2 linked regions of the Homo sapiens genome follow. The protein of the gene in region 2 interacts with the protein of the main gene of each other region in a pairwise test. Each region holds a gene or a part of one and is shown on either strand. Other genes may lie near its edges.

The links. Proteins that work in one complex are often made in the same cells at the same time.
Region 1: the proteins of FAM209A (region 2) and DEFB121 interact in binary tests that used the Homo sapiens proteins (3 or more experiments, as listed by UniProt).

What each region holds. Positions count from the first base shown.
Region 1 is NC_000020.11:31,403,697-31,408,133, reverse strand, and holds DEFB121 (beta-defensin 121 isoform 1 precursor), read left to right. Parts: upstream 1-1,918; 5' UTR 1,919-1,981; coding exon 1,982-2,039; intron 2,040-3,048; coding exon 3,049-3,221; 3' UTR 3,222-3,289; downstream 3,290-4,437. UniProt on the Homo sapiens protein: Has antibacterial activity.
Region 2 is NC_000020.11:56,523,471-56,527,896, reverse strand, and holds FAM209A (protein FAM209A precursor), read right to left. Parts: upstream 3,154-4,426; 5' UTR 3,089-3,153; coding exon 2,840-3,088; intron 2,115-2,839; exon of another isoform or gene 2,094-2,114; coding exon 1,827-2,093; 3' UTR 1,745-1,826; downstream 1-1,744. UniProt on the Homo sapiens protein: May play a role in sperm acrosome biogenesis.

The DNA.
Region 1 (4,437 bases), about 25 Mb from region 2:
ATATTCCTCTTATTAGTATGTCTTTATTTCTGTCCATTTTGAAATGATAGACCTAGGCCAGGTGCAGTGGCTCACGCCTGTAATCCCAGCACTTTGGGAGGCTGAGGCGGGTGGATCACCTGAGGTCAGGAGTTTGAGACAAGCCATGGCCAACATGGTGAAACCTCGTCTCTACCAAAAATACAAAAATTAGCTGGGTGTGGTGGCGCGTGCCTGTAGTCCTAGCTACTCGGGGGGCTAAGGCAGGAGAACTGCTTGAACCCGGGGGGCAGAGGTTGCAATGAGCTGAGATGGTGCCACGGCACTCCAGCCTGGGCAACAGAGCAAGACTCTGTCTTAAAGAAAAAAGAAAAAGAAAAGAAAGATAGACCTTACCATTATTGTCCTAAAAAGCACTTGGCTCTTTCCTGATCTATCTGCTGGCCTTGTGTATAAGTTAGCCATTACTATGTAATGTTCCACTCCAAAACTCAGTGGCTTAAAACATCAATCCTTTATATTTGGCTAGATTGCCCTGCTTGAGGCTGGAATGCCTGGGGCAGCTCTGTTTCTCACTGTAGATCTGTGAGTCGCCTGGAGTAGCTGTGCCCCACGTATCTCTCATCCTCCTTGGACCACTGGGGCATGTTCTTCTCATAGTGATGGCAGAGACACAGAAGGGCAAATGAAAATATTCATCATCTCTTAAAACCTAGGCTTACAACCGGCACACCGTCACTTCTGCCCACATATCACTAGCCAAAGCAAATCACATGCCAAGGCCAAAGTGAAGGGAAAATGAAATAGAGTTCTCCTAGGATGAGACCTTGGCAAATGTGTGAATTCAAGTAGGGATGAAGAAGTAGGGCCAAGATTACAATCTACCATTTCTTTCTTTCTTTTTTGAGACAGAGTCTCGCTCTGTTGCCCAGGCTGGAGTGCAGTGGCACAATCTCGGCTCACTGCAACCTCCGCCTCCCGGATTCAAGCTAGTCTCCTGCTTCAGCCTCCTGAATAGCTGGGACTACAGTGGCCAGCCACCACGCCCGGCTAATTTTTTGTATTTTTTTTTGTAGAGACGGGGTTTCACTGAGTTAGCCAGGATGGTCTCGATCTCCTGAACTTGTGATCCGCCTGCCTCGGCCTCCCAAGTTGCTGGGGCAATCTACCATTTCTTATAAGAAAGACCAAGCTGGGCATGATGGCTCATGCCTTTAATCCTAGCACTTTGGGAGGCCAAAGCAGGAGAATTGCTTGAGACCAGGAATTCGAGGTTCCAGTGAGCTATGATTGTGCCACTGCACTCCAGCCTGGGTGACAGAACAAGACTGTCTCAAAAAAATAAGTAATAATAAAAAAAAGACCACAACAATAATAAATGGCTTTTCTTTTGCTACCTATGAGGGTGCTACTTGTTCCTATTAAATATGTACTGTTAAAAGTAAGGGCTATGGCTTTCCTGCTCATTCCACTCCATGAATACTGACATTCTGGTTTCCAGTGGTGATGGCCATGGAGCTATTAAGGTATTTTCCCCTGCTCTGCCCTTCATTTGGTATTATAATGAATCATCAACATATGGGACATCCTAAGATGTCCTTGTTGCTGGGAAGAACCCAAGGCGCAGAGAAGTATCACTCCTTTTCTGTCTTATCTCTTTTTCTCTCTCTTTTTTTCTCATTAATGAAAAACAAATTAGAGATGAAAATATTTTTCCCCTTCTTGGTTCTCCAGCTGTATTATAAAATTCTTCAGAGGCAAGGCCGTATCTTCTCTTTGTTAACGTCCCTTCCCCCTCTCCCAGCCTCCTCAGGCAGTGTGGTTGATACCTTCCTTGCCTGCCTGTCTGATCTCAAATGACTGTTCCCGTTCTGGTTCACTGATCTTGGCTCTGCCATGCTCCTCAAGGCAATAAATACCAGTCTGGACTGCCCAGAATGGAGTCCTCTGTCTGTTTTACCAGTTGAGAAGCCTCCTATCCCTCCCTGATCATTCATCATTCATGAAGCTCCTTCTTCTGCTTTTGACTGTTACTCTGCTCCTGGCCCAGGTCACCCCAGGTAAACAGGATCTCCAGAAGGGGATGGGAGTCAGGAAACCTGATGCATGTTCAGAGAACTCTGGGGACTCTGACAGGTTGGGCTGGGAGAATGGCCTGGTAGAGCTCATTGAGGCCTTTAGGTAGTCTCTCTAGTTATGGGGAAGTTTGAGTTCTCTGGTACCAAATGGTCTTCCCAGTGCCCAGTACTTGACCATTCCAACCTTATCTCTGGTTAGCTCTGGAAAAGCTGAACGTGATGACCTGAGGATGGGATAGGGTGTAAAGAGAGAGACTTGGGTATGGAGTATAGAGAAAATGGGGACTTTTTCAAAAACATTCATTGAAAGGATTTGAATTTTGATGCATTGTTGCCTCTAGGAAAATGGTTCTCAAATTTCTGATTGTTTGAGGATTCTGATTCCACTTTTTAATGCAACCTCAAATCATCTGGGTTACCTTAGGTTGTAGGTTCCCTGGAATAGCTGTTCCTAATTCCCTTGACTGGTTGGGGCCAGAGAAAAGTCCCAGGATGTTGTGAAGAAGGCAGTATGATATTCTTGGGAGTTTTAAAGGTGCCCTAGAAGACTTACAGATGTTAAATGAGTTTATTTAATATTCCTGTCACCTTTCATTGATATGGTCAGAGGGGGTACCAAAGAACAATGAGAAAAGGTGGCTAATTGCTACTGGGCACCTGGGTACATTATAATATGGGGGAGATAAAACCCTTGGGAGAGGGGTCCTCTTCCCCCTCCCAAGGAGCTGGCCAAGGAGGGGAAGCTATCCAGTAGGTCCTATGCCACTGAGTTGGGGGGACTCTGGGGGTTCTAACAGGGGGCACAAGTGAAGGAAGAAAGCGTAGTGGTCTATAATCTCCCTTAAACTTAGGGGATCCTGTGTAAGAGCTTCTTCCCCACAGACCTCCTCATTTCCCTCCTACTCCTCTACTGGGCTTTAGCCTCTTCCTTTCACACCTTTCTGCTTTCTTTCAAAACTGACTCTATTCTCTTCTTCCCTTTTGTTTTCAGTCATGAAATGTTGGGGCAAGTCAGGCAGGTGCAGAACAACATGTAAAGAAAGTGAAGTATACTATATATTATGCAAAACTGAGGCTAAGTGCTGTGTGGATCCCAAGTATGTACCTGTAAAACCAAAATTAACAGACACAAATACAAGCCTGGAATCAACTTCTGCAGTCTGACACCTCTCTTCCAACCTTGAGTCTCAACATCATGGGATCCTGCAGTTCTATTAAATCATTCTTGGCAACACCCTGTTTCTGTCTGATAGTTCCACCTAGTTACATTTAGAAACAAGTAAATAAAGAAGAAAGGTTGTGTGCGTGTGTGTGTGTGTGTGTGTGTGTGTGTCCGGTGTGCATGTTAGGAAGAACAGGATGGACCAGTAGGTGGTAACAATCTAAACCTTGCAAATAGCTCCTAGCCTGCTGACCCATAGCTGGTCCAAGAGGGCATGAATTAAAGAATATTCATTATATCTACTTGATTCCTGTTTTCTTCTAGACCAGCACTGCCAATAGAACATTCTGCCATGATGGAAATATTTCCTGTCTATGTTGTTCAATATGGTAGCTACTAGCCACATGTGGCTACTGAGCACTTGAAATGTGCCCAGTGTGAATGCGGACCCGAAGTTTTAATTTGATTCAATCGAGCTTTAAATTTATATAGCTAAATGTGGCTAGTGGTGATTGTATTGTATAGCAATGGCTTTAGAGTCTAGGCTGAGGCATGCTGTGGGTCTCAATCTATGAGTATTTTAGGGGAGTCCAGGAGGCAAGTATGATGAACACAAGAACCCATTCTTGGCCCATGGCCTCTTTCTACTCCCACACCAAAGGTTATAACTTTCCCTTGATCACACCTGCAGTTCTGCCCCTCAGGGGCTCTAGGGCAATGCCTCTTGTGAGTCTTCCTCATGGTGGACAGTGCTGGCATCAGGCCATCTGTGGATCCTTGCTCCATCTCTTTCCATTCCCTCTAGTTGTGGCCATGGGACATTAAACTGCTGGCTAATCATTTTGCAGGACAGATCCTGAACTGAGACGACAGGAATTTTACCACATTCAGCCCCATGATCCCAAGTATCCCCAACTCTTGCTACTTATCTGACTAATGTAAAAGAACTTGATTCTTTATCCTGAGTTGAAAAGTTCTATTTGGAGTCACCTGCCTCCTATTCAGCCCTTTCATACTGGAGTCCTGACCTGGCTTCAGCCCTATGTCCCCAGTTCACCTTCCTGATGACAAACTTCAGCCTCAGAGTCAGTGTCTAAGTATCATCAAGCTGTCTAGGGAAGAGCGTTCGAAGCAGGATCAGAAGATCTGGAGTCAAATCTTTGCTTAATCGCATGTCAGCTGCATGACCCTAGGCAAGCCATTTAACCCTCTCTGCTC
Region 2 (4,426 bases):
GACCTCAGGTGATCTGTCCACCTTGGCCTCCCAAAGTGCTGGGATTACAGACATAAGCCACCATGCCCAGCCACCATATTCTTCCCGGGAAGATGCTGCCCACCCTTCAGGGCCCGGGGTTGGGACCCTTGAGGGACGCCTATGCCTTCGAGGCAGGGCCTCCTTCCCCTGAGGCCCCAGGCATCTGGGCTGCTGTCTGCCCTGCCTCCCTCTCCTGCTTCTGCTGCAGCCGCAGAAGCCATGGCCTCCTGCCTCATGGTCTTGGTCTTCCTTGCGCCCTGGGTGACTTTGATGCTTGTGAGGGTGACAGCACTGGTCAACTGGGTACCGGCCCCAGAGATGCCTATGCACTCATTCCTGGGACCTGTGGGCCTGCAGTTCATGTGGCAAGAGACATTTTGCAGATGAATTAAATGAAGGATTTTAAGATAAGTCATGATCCTGGCTGCAGGAGGGCAGGTCACCATTCTCCAAGAAAGGGAACCTGGCCCCTTGGGGAAGTGGCTGATTCCAGGATGAAGGCAGGCAATGAACCAGATGAGCATGGAGCATCTTGGGTTGCCAGAAAGTAAGGAATTGCTCAAAAGAGGAAGGGGCTTGCTCACAGAACACAAGTGCCAACCCGAAGCAGCTCCTAACGCCAAAGGTGGGAAAGGTGGAGCCAGAAAATAATCCAAAAAAAAAAACACACCTGTAAGTCCATACAGAAACCCATCCATCAATCATCGGCGAAGGAACAGCTCTTCTTACAGCAGAATTCCAATCAATAAACACTGTAGGAGAGAGGAAAATAGAAATCACCATTAGGCAAGCACCTAAGTATGTACAGAGATGCCATCAGCCACAGTAACATGTAAAATATCCACATTTTGAATAAGTAGGATAAAGAACATGTCAATTAATCTGGGAGCCCCTGGTTAGCACACTTGTATCCAAAACTCCAATGGCATAGGATGAATGAATTTTTCTCCGTTTTCTTGTTAATTTAAAATAATAGAGATGGGGTCTCACTATGTAGCCCAGGGTGGTTTCAAACTCCTAGGCTCAATCAGTCCTCCTGCCTCGGCCTCCCAATGGGCTAAGATTACAGGTGTGAGCCACCATGCCGGGCCTCTCCTTTTTGTTTTTTTCTTTTGAGATGGAGTCTCGCTCTGTCACCCAGGCTGGAGTGCAGCGGTGCGATCTCAATGCAACCTCTGCCTCCCGGGTTTGAGCGATTCTCCTGCCTCATCCCCCTTTTTTTTTTTTTAAATCCAATTATTGACAAATGTAACTGCTAGTGTGGTAGAAGGAAAAGTCAATATACACGGAACCTTTGACAGGGAATGAGTGAAAGGACTCTTGTGGTGAGAGAATCAGATAACTCTAGAATACACCCCTCCTAATTGAATCATTTTACCATTTTAAAACTATCATTAATGCTGTCTTTTGTAATAAATCAAAGATAAAAAGCAGTTCTGCATCTTGCACAAATAGATGCTATAGAGAGCAAGAGTTTGTATGGAAGTGACGTCAGCATCTTATCCCAGATTTCCCTAGCTCCATCGTCCACCCGCGGCCATTGAACAGAAGCACGAGCTCATCACGTACTATTATGTAGCTTTCGGTGTTCTTCTCACCACCCACAGCTCTAGATGACGTGAGAGAGGCAAAAACAAAACCATCACTGCTATGGCTACTGGTCTCCCATTCACTTTTTCTTCTAGTGAAAAAAAGAAAAGAAGCAAGCTCTCAAACATGGAAGTTCTTTTCTTCAGAATAGTTTTATTAGTTTGCATACAGTTTGTCAACACTCAACTTTTTTCTCTCCTGACACACAAATCCATTCAGCTAGAGCTTTCTTCTCCCCATATTTCACAGATCGTGACATGGTATGGATCTGCAGGCATCTCTGACTTTCGAAGCCTGAGGTTACTGCCACTACCTGTTGCCATGGCACGTTTAAGATTCCGCACTTTGGACACAAATTTCATAAGCTCCACCTCGAGTTCCATTAAGGTATTGAATGCACAGTCTTTGTTGGGGGAAGCATTTCTTTTTTTCTTTAATGGAGAGTGAAGTTGGCCGCCTCGAAGGCCAGGAGGACTCTGCTCCTGTCAGGAAAGATACTCAAGGTCAGTAATATTGTGAACTTTGTTGGTTTTGACACAGTTCGTGTTACAACAGCAGACTTGAGTAGTTGCAAGAAGACCATACTGCCCACAAAGCTGAAGATATTCGCACCCTCCCTGGCCCTTTACGGGAAGGGTTTGCCGATCCCTGCTCTCATCAGTTTGGGCACAGGATTATGAAGTGCTGGGTCTTTCTAGGGGAGAACGCACTTTCTCTCCCCTTCCTTTTCTACCTGAAAGAGTTGTTTGTGGTCACTTTGAGGACCAGCTCAAACTACCTTACATCTTTATCTCTTCAGCACAAGTCTCATATTTTGTTGGGATAATGATATCATTTCCATTTAGCTCAGGATTTTGTAGTAAGTCAAACACTAGCAAGAATTTAAAAAACAGGGGCTAGTGAATCTGGCCCTGTGAATAATTTTGACTTTCTGAAACACACCATAAGTTCTTGAATCTATCCTACATTTGAAAAAATCCATCTAACCAGAAAATCTGTGAGCCAGTAAGCAGAGGTCACTTTCCACTCTTTGTCCCAGTATCTGTGGATCTGGGGACAATTGTCTTCACTAAGGATACATCAGGAAGTGAATTTGCCAGCTTTGCCCAGGACCATGAGGTCGGTTCATTATACCCAACGGTGCCGTCTAGACTCACTAGAACATCCGTTTCCCTGAGACTCCTGAGATTGAATCAATATGGTGTAAAAAAAATGGAGCCATCCTTACCTTATTCTTCTCACTGTCTCTTTGACACTGCAGTATCACAAACGGCACAACAACAAAAAGAAGCCAGAGCCATTTGCTCCCAAGCCAGCCTTGGGTGTGCTCTGGTAGATTCTGCCGAATCCGAAAGTGCTCTCCGTATTGCACCTTCCCCTGGGGTTCGCTAGTTTTCTGTCTCAGAGAAGAGAACATAAAGGCATAGCTGCAGGTGAGGCACAGAAGCAGGACCAGGGACGATTTCAGCGTCCACATGGTGAGCAGAGATGGGGAAGGGAGTTGCTCATGACGGGTTTGCTTGCCCTCGCAACTGGGAGACTGGGCACCTGGTGCCAGGCCCTTGGTGATGTCACAGAGGCCCTGAGCTGAGGCCACTCTGGCCATTGTGATGATTTCAGGACAGAGGTTACAGGTCACAGGGGTTGCCCGGGAGGAGGACTCAAAGGGAGATGGGGGCATTTCCAGCAGGCAGTCAGAGAGAGAGGATGGGCACGACGGGGTGCCAATTCCCTGCCAGGGGACTCTTTCCAACCCTGGAGCTTTGCTGGGAGAGGCCATCATGTTTTTGTTTTTCATTTGTTTGATCCAGACATTGTGATGAGCAGAGGGAGATGCCATGTGCCCCGTGGAGCTGAGTTAAACGGGAGAGAAAGATATTAAACCACAGGCTACCTACAAATTTGGAGCCACCTATGTGGCTCAAACTAAACAAACAAAAAATTTGTTTTTGTTTTTTTTTGGGGACGGAATTTTGCTCTTGTTGCCCAGACTGGAGTGCAATGATCTTAGCTCACCGCAACCTCCGCCTCCCAGTTCAAGCCATTCTCCTGCCTCAGCCTCCTGAGTAGCTGCGATTACAGGCATCCACCATCACGCTTGGCTAATTTTGTATTTTTAGTAGAGACAGGGTATCTCCATGTTGGTCAGGCTGGTCTCTAACTTCCGACCTTAGGTGATCCACCTGCCTCGGCCTCCTAAAGTGTTGGGATTACGGGCATGAGCCACTGCGCCCGGCCCACCTATGTGTTTTGTTTGGCCTACATTGTTTTTAAAAATTGTCAGTACTTAAATATTGGGGGGCATTTCACTTTAAAACTCCACATTCTGGCTTCCTTTGAAAATATGGGAGGTCCAGAAACAATGAGTGCACACCCTCATGGAACCAGTCTCTCTGCTGCAGCCAAGTGAAACCGTCCTTTCGGTGGCCATATTCCCTCCACAGTCCCCACCACTCACTATTACCTCACACCATCATTGATCGTAGCAGTGTGTGCCCACCCTGGGTTAAGAGTATACTTTGGGCTGGGTGTGGTGGCTCACACCTGTAGTCCCAGCACTTTGGGAGGCCAAGGCAGGTGGGTCACCTGAGGTCAGGAGCTGGAGAATAGCCTGGCCAACATGGTGAAACCCCATGTCTACTAAACAAAAATTAGCCCGGCATGGTGGCATAGGCCTGTAGGCCCAGCTAGTTGGGAAGCTGAGGCAGGAGAATCACTTGGACCTGGGAGGCAGAGGTTGCAGTGAGCTGAGATCGCACCACTGCACTCTAGCCTGGGCAACAGAGTGAGACTCCATCTCAGGAAGAAAAAAAAA